Regions from separate parts of the Homo sapiens genome. Here region 2 is linked to region 1. Evidence: fine-mapped expression QTL. Tissue or cell type: lung. Region 1 holds a variant in brackets; the other region holds the start of a gene. All regions are shown on one strand. Distances are from middle to middle.

Evidence for each region. PIP is the estimated chance that this variant, and not a neighbour inherited with it, causes the effect.
Region 2: SRA1 starts here. The variant in region 1 is fine-mapped to the expression of SRA1 in lung (TOPMed, PIP 0.93).

What each region holds. Positions count from the first base shown.
Region 1 is chr5:140,364,760-140,372,759 of GRCh38, forward strand. SLC4A9 (solute carrier family 4 member 9) reads left to right here. Exons shown (of 22, transcript NM_031467.3): 12 at 761-819; 13 at 1,075-1,263; 14 at 1,392-1,505; 15 at 2,661-2,822; 16 at 2,961-3,139; 17 at 3,828-3,900; 18 at 6,336-6,404; 19 at 6,692-6,865; 20 at 7,483-7,638; 21 at 7,986-8,000. It overlaps ANKHD1-DT (ANKHD1 divergent transcript), which reads right to left. Exons shown (of 2, transcript NR_186045.1): 2 at 6,137-6,423. Among named protein-coding and RNA genes, the nearest start is that of SLC4A9, 8.6 kb to the left of the region's middle. The variant C/CA (reference allele first, on the strand shown) is at 4,770.
Region 2 is chr5:140,553,172-140,561,171 of GRCh38, forward strand. It overlaps SRA1 (steroid receptor RNA activator 1), which reads right to left and starts at 4,302. Exons shown (of 5, transcript NM_001035235.4): 1 at 4,257-4,302; 2 at 3,976-4,101. The coding sequence starts at 4,281. APBB3 (amyloid beta precursor protein binding family B member 3) reads right to left here. Exons shown (of 13, transcript NM_133173.3): 10 at 7,847-7,930; 11 at 7,468-7,583; 12 at 7,142-7,333; 13 at 5,097-5,650. The coding sequence ends at 5,414. RefSeq lists a silencer at 2,862-3,011 and enhancers at 3,535-4,356, 4,222-4,581, 4,672-4,731.

The sequences.
Region 1 (8,000 bases):
ACACTCTGGTTCTGAATCAATTGAGAAATAAGACAACAGAAGGCCTGATATCATCTTCCTTTCTGACAACACTGATAAAGGAACATGGGTTATATCTGTGGGTGAATGGGCTTCCTAATGATGAAGCCAAAATTGAATAGACTTACCCACCAGTCGTGGAAGCACTGGTTTGAGACTATCTTACCCCAGGGGAGTAGAGCTAAATACATACATCAAACAGGCAGCTTATACTCGAGAGAGGGGAGAGAAAGGGGCAGGGCCAGGTATGCCCAGCTTCATTTCCTGAAATCACCAATCAAATATATCACTGCTCTTCTGGGTGAGAGTGGCCGGCCAGGTGGAGAGAGGCTTGGAGTATTACACTTGCATATATCCCTCCACATGGAAGGCAACCCCAGGACTGGGAAGAAGTGGCCTCTCTATATGTTCTCCTATCAGTGCTAGGCATGAACAAGACCAGTTCTAGCCCTGGTGGAAACACACAGATTTGTATACTCCTCTATTCAGCCAACATTTGCTGAGCATCTACTGTGGCCAGGTCCAGTGCTTGGTACCAGGGATGCAGATGGGTAGAGAATTTGAGAGGATGGGGGCATGAGACAATGTCCTTCTCGCACACTTGGTAGTGATAGAGTCAGCAGACAGATGAGTCACAATTAAGAACTCTGGTTCACCTGGACCCATCAGATAAGAATTTTATGGGGCTGGAGGAGGTTCCCAGGGGAGGGAACATACATCTGAATTCTTCTCTGCTTCCCAGGAAATGAGTCTCAATGGATAAGGACAAGGCCAAAAGACAGAGACGACATTGTAAGCATGGTGAGGGACTGCTCCTGGGAGGTTCTAGGAAGGAAAGGGTGGAGACCAAGGCAGTCGGTGGTTTCTAGCTCTTCCTACCCATAGGTTAAGGAAACCTTCATAGGTGAGTAAAGCTTAGCCATTTCCTACAGCTGGGAACTTCCCATCCTGGGCCCCTGGTGTCTCTGTGGGTCCCTCCTCCCTTGAAGTTGGTCCAGGAGAGCAGGACATTTACTCCATTGCCTATAACTCCACTCCTGACCCTCCTGTGTACAGGACTTAGGCCTGATCAATGCATCCTTGCTGCCGCCACCTGAGTGCACCCGGCAGGGAGGCCACCCTCGTGGCCCTGGCTGTCATACAGTCCCAGACATTGCCTTCTTCTCCCTTCTCCTCTTCCTTACTTCTTTCTTCTTTGCTATGGCCCTCAAGTGTGTAAAGACCAGCCGCTTCTTCCCCTCTGTGGTGAGTTTCACCTTTCTTTCTGTGGGAGAGGCCTGACTCTAAGCTTTGGGTCCTATCTGTGATGGGAAGTGGTGTGGAAAAAGAGAGATGGCAGGCCTGGACCTGACTGAGTGTCCACTGTGTGCCAGGTGCGCAAAGGGCTCAGCGACTTCTCCTCAGTCCTGGCCATCCTGCTCGGCTGTGGCCTTGATGCTTTCCTGGGCCTAGCCACACCAAAGCTCATGGTACCCAGAGAGTTCAAGGTGAGAGCCAGGGAAGAGGGTTGGGGGACCAGAGGGGAAAGCAGGGCCAGCAGACCATGGGGAAGGAAAATGAATAAATCCCACACTTCTCTAAGCTTCTTTCTTCACTAATAAGCTAGAGATAGTAATAATAATGGCCTCACAGGGTTGTCATGAGGATTAAATGAAGTACTGCAGCAGACACGTGAGTACAGAGAATACACGGTAGCTATTATTACAGGGTATGGGTTAAGAGAATGGGTTCTGATCAGCCAGCCCTGGGTTTGAGTTCCAGTTCTTCCACTTCCCAGCTATGCATTAGGCAAGTTAATGCACATTTCTAAGCCTCAATTTCTTCGTCTATAAAATGGAAATAATAAAATGACAATAGTTCCTACCCCGTAGATTGTTTTGAGGTTTACAGAAGATCACAGTGGAAAGCACTTACCACATGCCTGGCACATACCAAGTCCTCAATAAATGTTAGCTATTATTGTTACGGGATTGCCCCACCCTTGGCGTGGCCCTGCCCACTCCACTACTCCTCACTCTCTTCTTCCCACCCCACGTTGCCTACCCTGATCCAGGAAAGCTGGAACTCCCTTTCCAGGGCATGACAGTGTGCAGGACAAGGCTTAGCACTGATTTCTAGACTTTGCCTTTGCATTTGGAGACCTCCTCTCCAAATTCCCCCAAGACAGGAGAGCAGGGAGGAATCCAGCTGGGGCAGCAACTGGGGCCCCCTCCCCAACACATATGCTTGTAATCAGCGTGGACACAGACACACCCAGCCCTGTCCCTGCCTCAGATCAAGGCAGGTCTGAGCCTGAGTTGCCCCACCCGGGATAGGGGGAGAGGGATCTCTAGGGAGCAGGGCTCTGTACATCAAGAAGTGTGTGTAGGCCACATGTGCCACCTCCTTCTGTTCCAGGGAGGGAGGGACCCTGAACCAAAGTCCAGAGCCCCTGGTTCCAGCCTGACCTCAGGGCTGGTCTCCTTCCATCTGCTGTCTTTTAAGGCACTGGGATGCTTTGAACCAGCTATGCACACACAGCCCACTAGCATCTAGTGACTTGGGGTGGGGGCAGGTTGTGGAAGAATGCCAAGGTTGAGATGTGCAGGTGAGATGCTCTTGGGAGACCCACTCCAACCTGTCCATGAAATGCCCTCCTCCAGCCCACACTCCCTGGGCGTGGCTGGCTGGTGTCACCTTTTGGAGCCAACCCCTGGTGGTGGAGTGTGGCAGCTGCCCTGCCTGCCCTGCTGCTGTCTATCCTCATCTTCATGGACCAACAGATCACAGCAGTCATCCTCAACCGCATGGAATACAGACTGCAGGTAAGGCCTGCTGGGTAAGGCCCAAGACCAAGGGACAGAAGCTCCAGGGGAGTCTACGCTCCTCCTCTCCTACCTCAGAGGACAGAGGGCTGGGGCCTGGGCTAGCTTCATCCTCATTGCCCCCACCACTACCTGCAGAAGGGAGCTGGCTTCCACCTGGACCTCTTCTGTGTGGCTGTGCTGATGCTACTCACATCAGCGCTTGGACTGCCTTGGTATGTCTCAGCCACTGTCATCTCCCTGGCTCACATGGACAGTCTTCGGAGAGAGAGCAGAGCCTGTGCCCCCGGGGAGCGCCCCAACTTCCTGGGTATCAGGTGAGGGCGGTATTTAGGAAGTGGAGTAAGAGGTGGGCAGCAAGGTAAGGCAAAGGGGAACATGGCAGAGTTACTTGGGCAGCTTAAATTCTAAGCTGGTGTCCCACAAGCATTGCAGTGGCAGAATGAGTGAGTTCTGGGCTCTGAGATGGGTGAGTCAGATCTTCCCCTCTCTCCCCTCAGCCATGGGGACTGGGAGGGGCCTCAAGAGGATTATCATCCATGCAAAGGTAGAGGCAGCCAGGGCTGAAGTGGAGGGTCAGGTGCCACCTAATAATCCTCACTCAATGTAGAAGTTACAAAGGAATCCATCATAAAAGCAATTTTGGAACTGTTGGAAGCACAGTCTAAGTATCTAAAGTATATGAAATCAACTTGATAAATTGTGAAATGTAAGTCTTTATGGCAGTGTAAACATTGCTAATTTTCCATCAAAATAAAAATAAGGAGCAACTATGAACTTGAATTGATGGAGAGGTCTGGGACTCTCACCTTGAAGTGCTCTGCCCCTTCCTCTCCACCAATTTTTCACATCAAGCTAAGGGCTCATCCCTCTGGGTGACCTACTGGGGTATTCCTCTAGTTTTCTCTTGCTGCCGGGGTCTGTACTGGTATTCAGCCAGGATCTCCAGTCTGGATACCCCAGGGACTCTCCCAGACCTCAGCTAACTCCTCCCTCTCCCCACAGGGAACAGAGGCTGACAGGCCTGGTGGTGTTCATCCTTACAGGAGCCTCCATCTTCCTGGCACCTGTGCTCAAGGTACCTTTGTTATACAAGCCAGGATCAGGGTCAGTGTAGTAATAATAGGAGCACAGCAAGAACTGACAGTAGTTGAATACTTACAGTGTGCCAGGTGCTCTGTTAAGTTTTCTCCATACATGGTCTCATTTAATCCTCACATTAACCCTGAAAGGAGTATGTACCTTACAAATGAGGCAGATGAAGTTTAAAGAGGCAAAGAAACTTGCAAGAGCCCATCAAAAGAGCCAGTTTTTCAGATCTGTCTGAGAACTCAAACGCTTATCCAATGGGCTTTTTACCCAGTGGAGCAAGGTGTGGGTGTGCCACCACCATCCCCTAGGGTCTAAGTGCTACCCTTGCTCTAGCCTCCCAACAAACCTGAGACTAAGAGTATGATCAGCCCAGGTGCGGTGGCTCATGCCTGTAATCCCAGCACTTTGGGAGGCTGAGGTGGGAGGATCACTTGAGCGCAGAAGTTTGAGACCTACCTGGGCAACATAAGGAGACTCTGTCTCTGCAAAAAATAAAAAAGGTAGCTGGGCATGGTGGTGTGTGCCTAAGGTGGAAGGATCGCTTGAGCCCAGGAGTTTGAGAGTGCAGTAGGTGGTGATCACTGGATGACAAGAGCAAGAATGTCTCAAAAAAAAAAAACAAAAAAAAACCAAAAAACAACAACAGAAAAACTTTGAGGCAAAAAGCCTTCACTTCTCCTTCACCAGAGGTATATGGAATATTTGCTATATGCAAGACTGCTAGGCACTTGGGAGAAGTACGGGTCAGTGGAATATTGAAAAGAAATATGGAACTAAGCCCCTACCAGCAACACACACAAATGAGCAAAAATTAAGTAACAAGTAATAGCAAAAAGGTTGAACAAGCCAAGACAG[C/CA]AAGCAGTCAAGGAGGGTGTGGAGAATGTCAGACAAGGGTCACTGGCAGGACGACAAGAGGTTAGGGAAGGGAAAGGTCATGGAAGCTGGGTGAAAGTGGAGTAGGGAAAGAGCCAGATGGACCGGATCAGCCACTTACTAACTGGGTGACTCTCATTTACAGACATTTACAGAGCATAAACCATATGCTAGGCCGGGTGTGGTGGCTCACACCTGTAATCCCAGCACTTTGGGAGGCCGAGGTGGGCGGATTGCTTGAGCTCAGGAGTTTGAGACCAGCCTGTGCAACATGGCGAAACCCCGTCTCTACAAAAAATACAAAAGTTAGCTGGGCATGGTTGTGTGCACCTGTAGTCTCAGCTACTTGGGAGGCTAAGGTGGGAGCATCACTTGAGCCCAGGAGGTCTAGGCTGCAATGAGCCAGGTTTGTGACACTGGACTCCAGCCTGGGCAACAGAGTGAGATCTTGTCTCAAAAAACAAAACAAAACAAAAAATCCCAAAAAACAGAAAACCCTAAACAAAAAAACAAACAAAAACCCACATGCCACGCACTGTTCTAGGTACTGGGGATATAATGGTGCTCAAAAGAAATCATTTTTCTAACCTTACAACCTGGTGAGAGGAGAAAGATTTTTAAAAATTAAAACAAGAAGCCAGGCACGGTGGCTCACGCCTGTAATCCCAGCACTTTGGGAGGCTGAGGCGGGTGGATCATCTGAGGTCAGGAGTTCGAGTCTAGCCTGGCCAACATGGCGAAACCCCATCTCTACTAAAAATATAAAAGTTAGCTGGGCGTGGTGGGGGGTGCCTATAATCCCAGCTACTTGGGAGGCTGAGGTATGAGAATCGCTTGAGCCTGGGGGGATGGAGGTTGCAGTGAGCCGAGATCAAGCCACATCACTCCAGTCTGGGTGGAAGAACGAAACTCCACCTCAAAAAAAAAAAAACAAAAACAAAAAAACAAATTAAAACAAGAGAATAGGATAACTTTAGATAGTGATAACTTCTGTGAAAAATAAAAGAAGATAAGATGATTAAGAGTGCCAGGGGCTACTTTAGATGGGGCCTGAAGTTAAAAAGTCAATGAAGACCTTTCAGGGTGTCATGAGAGGAGGCATGAGTAATAAGAATAAACTGGTCATGAGAAAGTCTGGGGGAAGAGCATTTTAGGTGGAGGGAATAGCAAAGCAAAAGGCTTTGCAAGGGGTAGGAACAAACTTGGGCATGTTGAGGGAAGGAAAGGCGGTTAGTATAGTGGGAGCATAAAGAACAGAAGGAAATGTGATAGATAAGATTGGAATGGTAGGCCAGGTAATGGACAAAGTTACTTAGTCCCTCTGAAATTCAATTTCCCAATCTGTAAAATGAAGGCAATAATAACATTTACTTCATCTAATTGATTTGAGGATTCAATAAGATCGGCATGAAACATGTGAAAGGAAAGGCAAGGCCTGGGCAGACCTGGATGCTAGATGCTAGAGGGATCTAGGGCATCTGGGCATCCTGGGGCATCTGGGAGGTTGGCAGAGGTAAACTTTGATAACTCTCTGCTTCTTTCTACCAGTTCATTCCAATGCCTGTGCTCTATGGCATCTTCCTGTATATGGGGGTGGCAGCGCTCAGCAGCATTCAGGTGAGCCCATTAAAATCACCTAACAAAAGAAAAAAGAAGAATAAAAAGACAAACAAAAAAGAACAAAATTACCTAGCAACCCTACTCCTTTTTTCTTTTCTGCTGGCATCTCCTGCTTACACTTGCCAATTTCCCTCTTACTCTCTTTTTCCTGTCTCTCCTGGACTCAGGGACTCGGCTGCCATGCTCTCTGCCTGCTCCCAGTGCTGGGCTATGATAGCTATCAGTGACACCCTCCTATCAGGCTACCTGAGTGCCCTGCTTTCCTCTTCCTCTTGTTCCCCTAGTTCACTAATAGGGTGAAGCTGTTGTTGATGCCAGCAAAACACCAGCCAGACCTGCTACTCTTGCGGCATGTGCCTCTGACCAGGGTCCACCTCTTCACAGCCATCCAGCTTGCCTGTCTGGGGCTGCTTTGGATAATCAAGTCTACCCCTGCAGCCATCATCTTCCCCCTCATGGTAAGCTGAGGCAGGGTTGGGCTGTGTCCTGGAGGGTCTTGGGAGACTCTGAGCCTGGAAGGGTGGCCAAGGCCTCCACGAGAGGAAGAATCTCCCCTCTCACTCGCTGTGGCTCTCCCTGGTTGGGAATCCTAAGACAAAGAAAAAGATGGCAGGATGATACCTATGTATGGGCTAGTCCTGGGATACCTGATTCACCTCTTTTCCCAACCTCTTTGGAGTGATCAGCCACAGGTAAGAATATAAAACCCAGAAGAAATCTGAGGTCTTGGTAGAGGAAATGGTGACACTTTTATTACTCAGTGAGGTGATAACATAGGTGGCTTCTGGCCTTGTTCTTATTGAGGAAGTTAAGAGTCACAGGCTTTGCAGTAGAATCAATCTGCTTATATATCCCAGATGTGTGACCTCTGGGAAGTAACTAATCACTTGGGGTCTCAGTTTCCTTCCCTGTACAATGGGAATAATTTATTCTATCTACCTCATAGGAATGTGCTAGCATTCAGTGAAACTGATATACAATGCCTAGCACATAGGAAGTGCTCAATAAGTGTTACTATTGTTAATGTTCCTACTACTGTTGCTGACAGGCCTGGGCCATGTTTCTATTCCTGCAGTTGCTGGGCCTTGTGGGGGTCCGAAAGGCCCTGGAGAGGGTCTTCTCACCACAGGAACTCCTCTGGCTGGATGAGCTGATGCCAGAGGAGGAGAGAAGCATCCCTGAGAAGGGGCTGGAGCCAGAACACTCATTCAGTGGAAGTGACAGTGAAGATGTGAGCTCCAGGCTGGGTCCTCTCAGGAGAATGTGTCAGGGTTTGGGAGAGCGTTCTTGTCCAGGAGCTGTCCCTAAATAATATCTCCAGTAAGCCCGCAGATCTGATCAACAGTCACTTCCCTTATCTGTGTATGGACATAGGCAGACTGAAGGGGTGAAGGAAATCTTTCTTCATAGGACAGGGGCCCTCGATGTGGGTGGAAAGGGCTGAGGCTTCAGCTCAAGTGGGCTGTCTTTCTCAACTCTGATCTTTGTTTTGTCTCACTGTGGGTTTACCTCTATGTTGTCTTTCACTATCTGTCTTTCTATCTATTCTCAATCCATCTTGGGATCTGTCTTCCACAGTCAGAGCTGATGTAT
Region 2 (8,000 bases), 190 kb after region 1:
GAAGATTAGGAATACAGGTACAGGCTGAGTGTGGTGACACATGCCTCTAATCCCAGCACACTGGGAGGCAGAGGCAGGAGGATCGCTTGAGCCCAGGAGTTTGAGAGCAGCCTGAGCAGCATACTAAGACCCTCTTAAAAAAAAAAAAAAAAGACAGCTGCTAGACTAGTATGTAGCAAAAAGTACAAAATGAGCTGTTTTTATTAAATTGAGAACTACCGGATGAGATAGATGCAGCTATGAAGAGTTGAAGGAACATGTACTAGGTCGAGGTTAGAGCAGTGCCCAAGAAGCAGGAAAACTTTTGATTTGTTCAAGAGACAGTAATGAGGCCTGTATGGCTAAAAATTATTACCACTGAAGAAAGTAGTATGAGCTATCATTAGAGAGGTAAGCAGAGGGTCCAGACCCTGTGGGGCTTTGGAAGAGTTTGATCTTGAGTCAATGGTACTGGGAAGCCACTGCAGGTTTGTAAAAGCAAGGGGTGATGTGACCAGACTTATTTTTAAACATGTATGCTCTGTGAAAAACTGATGAAAACAGGTCAACAGTGGTGGCAGGAACACCAGTTGAGAGGTTGAGTAGTTCAGGAAAGAGATAATGCTGGCATGGACTAGGGTAAAAGAGTAGACGAGGGGAATGGAGTAGTCTGAGATTTACTTAGGAGGAAGTAGCAACAGGAGTGGATTGAGAGTGAGGAAGAGAGAAGTCAAGGTGACTCGTAGTTTCTGACTTAGTAATGGGAACCACTAACAGAAAGAAGACTGGAAGACAAAAGTCAAAAGTTTACTTTTAGGTACCAACATCCACAAGGATGATTAATTCATCTAATAATTTGGTGTTTCAGTTGACCTCTTCACCTCCAGTGATCATTTTTTCCCACCCTACATCAGCCTGTCATCCCCCTGCCTTGTTCACACTATCACCTCCAAAATCTGATCACCCCCTTACCCCTTCCAGCTCAGCTACTTTGATTTCAATGTACATTAACATCACCCCCTTATAAATATTTTTACCTCCTTTATCTCCTCCCATTGTCCCACTTTCCTGGTTAAACCCAACTTGCTTGCACTTGGGAGGGAAAACAGAGCCATGCTGATAGTTTAAATTCATGGCCACAGATTTTAAAAGGTACCAAATACTGCCTGGACATTTTGGCTCATTTTTTCCACTCTTCAGAACTTCTCTTCCTTTCCTTGCTATCTTCTTCTGACACTGCCTAATGTTTCATTGAAAAGTAGAGGTCATTAAACAGAACTCTCTCATCTTCCCACCACCATTCCTCCTAACCCACCTGCATCTGTGGCCACTTTTCTTCCTCTTGTAATAGATGAAAAGGTTCCTGCTCCTATCAAAAGCCATCTTACCAGCTGTACTCTGCATCCTAGCCTCTCTTGTCTTCTCTAGACTTCCCTACTGTAACTATCTTCTCTTGCATCATCAGCTCCCCCTCTCTACTGAATCATCCCGTTAGTGTACAAACATGCTCTAGTATATTACTATCAAAACACTCCCTTACTTCATGTTCCATTTTCAGATACTGTCCCATTTCTTATCTCTGCAGCAGCATTTGAGTGAGCTCTTTATAGTCACTCTCTCTACTTTTCACATTCTCTCCTCAGCCCATTCCAGCTGTTTCTGTTCTCACTACTGCAGAGACTTGCTCTTGTTATGATCACGAGTGACTGCTATGTTTGTCAAATCTACTGGTTCCTTGTCGCTCTTTTTTTTTTTATTGAGATGGAGTCCCAGGCTGGAGTGCAATGGTGCGATCTCGGCTCACTGCAGGCTCCACCTCCCAGGTTCAAATGATTCTCCTGCCTCAGCCTCCCGAGTAGCTGGGATTTCAGGTGCCCGCCACTACACCTGGCTATTTTTTGTATTTTTAGTAGAGACAGGGTTTTACCACGTTGGCCAGGCTGGTCTTGAACTCCTGACCTCGTGATCCACCCGCCTTGGCCTCCAAAGTGCTGGAATTACAGGCGTGAGCCACTGCGCCTGGCCCCTTGTCTCTATCTTGATGTCTCAGCAGCATTCATTACTATTGATTCATGTCTTTACGCTCTCCTATTTTCTTTTTTTATTTTGGTTTTGTCACAGAATATCACTCTGTCGCCCAGGCTGGAGTGCAGTGGTGCGATGTCGGCTCACTGCAACCTCCGCCTCCCAGGTTCAAGCGATTCTCCTGTCTCACCCTCCCAAGTAGCTGGTATTACAGGCCCAGCTAATTTTTGTATTTTTAGTAGAGACAGCGTTTCGCCATGTTGGCCAGGCTGGTCTTGAACTTCTGATCTCAGGTGATCTGCCCACCTTGGCCTCCCCATGTGCTGGGATTACAGCCGTGACTCACTGCGCCTGGCCTCTCCTTTTTTCTTCTTTGGCCATTTCCCAATCTCCTTTGCTGATTCCTTCTCAACCTTGAAATGCTAGAGTGCCCTACGGCTCTGTCCCTGGCCATATTCAAGCCCATGACATCAAATACCATCCTTGTAATGGTGACTTATTTCTCTAATTCTGGCCTAGAACATTCCCCAAAAGTAACAGCCTAAACTTCACATGGCCCCCCAAAAAAACTCCCCCTCCCCAAAACCACCATCCCCAGTCTTCCTATATCAAGCAAAAAAATTCAGTTATATGGATTCTTCCTAATCTACTCATTCCTACTGACCTTCTCCATCTCATATCCATCCAACTCCTACCACCCTGACTCCCACCCTTATGCAAATCATTAAATCTTGCCTATATTACCATAATAGCTGTAATTTGTCTTTCCACTTCCCTAAAATCTTGTTTTCACACAGCAGACACAGTGATCTTTCCAAAATGTAAATCAGTCCCTGGTTCTCAAGCTAGGAAGATAGTGCCCACAGGGCAAATGTCTGGAAACACTTTTGGCTATCACAACTGGGTGGATGCTACTGACATCTTTTGGGTAGAAGTCAGAGTTGCTGATTAACATAAGACACAGGAAAGTCCCTCACAAAGAATTATCTGGCCACAACCTATCAATACTGCTGAGTTTAAGAAACCAAGCCTTGTATCATTCTTCTACAGCAAAAAGGGTGTGGAGAATGGAGGGCCACTGAAAGAACCAAACCTGAGCCCCTTTATGGGGGCCACGGCACAGCCCATTTAATGGCTTGGAAAATTCTCGGGGGGAAAGGTGGCTCTCCTCTACTTTAAACTTTTCAATGGCTTCTAACTTTATGTAGATTAAAATACAAATTCCTCATCCTGCTTTACAAAGCCCACTATGCTGTAGCCAGCCACTCTGTATTTCATCAGTCTCTGAATTGGCCAAACTTATTCCTTTTGCAGCTGTTTCTTTTGCTTGGAATGCTTTTGTACATGATCTTTGTGTGGCTTAAATGTCAGCCCCTCAGACACCTCGTTACCCAGTCATATTACATCACCGCTTATTTTCTGTAGCACCCTCACCACTATTTCATCTTTCAGCCCATCTCCAGTGCTGCAACGTGGACTTCCTGAAAGCAGAGATCTTTTTTTTTTTTTTCTCACTGCTGTCTAGTTCGCCCTCAAACAGTGCCTGACTTATAGAAGTGCTCAGTAAATAACAGTGATTAAATGAATGAAAAACTGTGAAGTCTGACGATTATCATATACCTAAGTGAAGACAGAATGGACAAATGAATATGCCACTATACGGTTCTGGCAAGAGGTATAGGTTAACAAAGAAAAATAACTTCAGGATTAAAACTATATTAAAAGCCACAGGTCTGGATAAGATCATCTAGGATGAAAAAATAGTCTTTTTAAATCAATACACCATTTATTAACCTGAGCAGCAGAGAAGGGGCTCGGAAAAGCACCTGCTCTGAGACCCTTACTGGAGCCCCAAAACTTCTCTCCTTAAGGAGCCCTCGGGGAGAGAAAAAAGCCTTCCAAACAGGCTTATGCCTTACACCCCCCCCCCCCCATTCTCCGTCTGTCTCCGAGCACAGGGGCCCCACGCACCTCTGGGGGATCCATCCTGGGGTGCGGCGACCCTCTTGGTAAGCAGCGAGCGCCTGGGTCCGCCGGCCTGGGTCTGCAGCCCGTATGAGAACTGCGGCGGGTCGTTCCAGCCGCGTTCCTTGTTGCCTGCGGAGGCGAGGGATGTGTGAAGCGAGCCCGGAACTCCACTGTTAGCTTATACTGGGGCTGGGGGAGACAGAGGGTCCATACTAAGCGCCGCAACCGCCCCCAGCCTAGGCCGGGGCGACAACCTAGTGCCCTAGCCCGCCGGCTGCGCTCACCCGGCTTCACGTACAGCTCCGCCATCTCCACTTCCGCTTGGCCAGCGGGGCAGCGCGTCATTTCCGGGGCGGCCCCTCACGCGGGCCAGTTGAGACACGTCCAGGGCCAGGCGGGTTGCCGGAATCCGTGGAGGATGGATGCTGGTTCACAACCGTCGGGAGCCGCTGTGGGGACCCTGCGGCAACTCCCTAAGACTCGAAGGCTCCATCTAATGAACCATCAGGGCCCTGGTCACAAGGCACCAAAGGAGGTTGCTGTCCAGGAGCCAGTGCTCTAGGAGGCCTCATCCTCTCAGGAGCAAATTCAAACAAAGAAGCTCCTGCCCCACATACACCCCGCTGTGATCTAGCCAGGTTGACTTCTACAGCCTCCTCTTGCATTGCCCTGCACAATCTCCACATTCACGTCCGGTAGCCTCACTAGTACTCATCTTCCTTCAGTTCTCAGTTCAGATGTCAGTTCTTCAGGAGGCCTTCTGGAATGTCTCAGGCCAGGTTAAGTGTCTCACTTGAGCTCCCACGACCCTACAACCCTCTGAGATTTCGTAGGTGTATTACATCACATCTTCTGCCTTATTTGACTCTTGTTCGTTTCCCTGTCGGACAGTCTTAGAAGGTGGGACCTTGACTATTTTATTACATTCCCAGTGCCCAGCTTAGTGCCTGGCACAGGGAACTCCTTAGAAAATATGTTTGTTGAATGAAGTCAGATCTCCATCACACCCATGCTGTCATGTGACTACAGAGAGCCACCAACATCAAGCACAGACACAAAGACACTCATCTCACACAGGGTGTTAGCCCCCAGCCCTGTCCCAGGCCCAATATACTCACATCCAGTGAGGTCACTGAGGGATTTTTATTTGCACTGATTTTGCTATAAAGTGTTACTGAGGTAGAGCCAACTGTCCAGGGTTGGACAGGGGCAAGGAACACAAGGACCCAAGGAAAGGGGAGCCAGGGTCCTACGTTGTGGTGCAGTGCCTCCCAGTCATCCGTATAAACAATAAATTGGGCAATAAATAGACGGTGGACAAGGATCGGAGGGACAGGCAGAGAAGGCTTCAAGGAGTGACAGGCTATAGGCCTTGAGGAATAAAACGGTACAGAGTTAGGCATGGACCCAGAGCCTACTTCCCCAGCCTTCCCAGATAAGTTTAGGGCATATGGAGCAGAGAGGGTTTCAGCCGGAAGGCATCAAGAAAAGAGAAGACACCCCGCTTTCGAGGGGTTGCCCCTGCACCGCCAACCCCTCCTTTGAGCAGGGGGAGGGGCAGGGGACCTCCTGGGGAATCCATGGAGCTGGTCCGCTTGAGCCGCAGGCGGGCACGGGCCTGGGCACCCCAGGCCTTGCCTCGAGCTGCAGAGGCCACAAGACACTTCTGGTACTGAACCTAGGGAGAAGGGGAATGTGAGGATCCAGCTACTTTCTGCCTCTAGACTCCCTGAAAGCTTCTGCAGGACAGGGAACTGGCCAAAGCTTCTGTCTGATAACAAGGTTGGTAGTCAGCCACATGTGGAGTTTCTAGAGCATTCCCAGGTAGCTCAATAACAAAATCATAAAACATGTATCAGACACTTAAGGAGGGCAGGCTGGACACTGCTAAGTGCTTTGTATAATTCAGTTATTTATGAGGGGTTATTATCCCTGTTTTGCAAAAGAGGAAATTGAGATTCAGAGAGTATATGACTTGCCCAAGGTCACACAGCCAGAGAAAGGCAGAAATGGCATTCAAACCTAGTTCTCTCTGATTGCAGAGCCTAAACTCTTAATTACATGTACCACTATGTTGCCTCTTTTCCATCTCTCACTGGTGGGGACTAGTCCCTGGCAAAGCAGATTCCCTAGTCAAGGGTAAAGGTGTACAACTCAAACTCCAGCCCCAATGCAACTGCTCCCAGTCATCTCATCTGAACAGCTCAAAGGTGTCCTAATTGGCCTTCCTACCTCCTATTACGTCCTCCAAATCTTTTACCCATACTATAGCTTAAGTGGTCATCCTAATCCATAACCCTGACTTCACTCTCGGGCTCCAGTGCTTCCTAGTGCCTCCAGATAAACTCATCACCCTGACCTATGAGGTCCCCCAAACCTGGCTTCTGTCATTCTCTCTGATCTCACCTCTCACTACGTCCCCCTTGCATGCCAGATACACTAGATTCTTTCAGATACTCTCATCCACTAATATCTCTCACCTTCACAGCTAAGGTTCCCTGTGCTTGGTACACCTGCCCCACTCCCCTTCACCTGGCTAACTTCCCTCTTGGACTGTCGGATTTCTATCACCTCTTACAGGTAGCCTTCCTGACCCCTAAAGGGGCCACCTCTTCCATCAACCAGTGGTGTACAACTTATTTCTGGTCTATCTTGGCTCTATCCTAAGTGTTTTGTGAAGGCAAGGGCTGTGCCCTCTACAGCACTAAATTCTCAGGGTCAGCTATGGTGTCTGGGACCCTGTAGGCACCCATATTTGTTGAATGAATGGGCAAACTGAACTAACGAAGTATAAGCAACCCACACTCAAATGCCCACAGATGCCAGGAAATAAACCTAAATGAGACAAACAGGAACAATGCCAACTCTTTAGGGCACAGCTTCTGCACAACTCTGGCTGCATGCTGACACTTACACGTGTGAACTGAGTGCCAGAGCTCTTGATATTTTAAGAAAAACAAGAATAGCGATTATTATGTGAAATGTCCTGGCCTTTAAATATTGGCAACTAATTAAAACTTACTAAAAACAACATGAGGGCCAAAACATTAATGAACCAGAATCAGCCCAGGTTTGTGATCTCTGAAGAGGCTGCCGACCCGGAGCCCAAGTAAACAGTGGAGAGCAGCTGCAGGGCAATCCCACCAACCCATTCCCACCCATGACTCACCATACAGGCAGCCTGCACAGCTTCAGAGAGTCCCCCTGCATGGGGCTGGCACCAGAAGGCTGCGCACTGGAAGCTCTGACGGCCCAGGTCAGCGATGAGGCCAAAGGTGTGTGGGTCGCGGCCAACACCAATAAATGTCACAAGGCGCACAGGGCACTGCCACAATGGCTCCTCCTCTGTACTGGCCTCTGCCTGCCCACACCAGGCCTAGTCACTAGAGGGCCAAGCACGGGCCAGACCCACTTAACTTTTCCGACAGCAAGCAGTGACCCCTCAGCATCCCTGCTCACCCCTCCAAAGCCCCCAACTTCACCCTCTTCTGGTACCTGAATGGGGTGTGCAGTCATGAGAGAGTCAGACACACTGAGCATGGTGGGGACCCAGGCATTCCGGTCCCCCCTGGCGGTGAGGGTACCAATGGCCTCGTTCAGCACATCCATGCCTGGGGGAACATACCCAGCGTGTCTCCCAGTGTAAAAGAAAGAGTCTGCAGGGAGTGTCTAGCCCCCTCTCACTGATTTGGGATTCAGAGATAGGGAATAGGATAGCTGGGGCAAGCCTTAGAATTCTGATTTGGGAAGGCTGGTAGACCCCAGGCCATAACAAGGCCACGGGAGGACTCTTGAGAAATGATAACAGGCCTCACCTCACTCACCTTCCCCTTGCCTCACACAGCCCACCACATGCAGCCCCCTCAGTCCTCACCCATGGCCTTGGTGACTGGCAGTGTCCCCATATACAGTGCCTCGTACTTCTGAGCAGCTTGGCTTACCGCATCCAGCAGCTCCACTGAAATATACACACCAAGTTGGCCTGGAAGCTCTTTCAATTACCCTTTTCCCCACCCTTCTCAATGGGC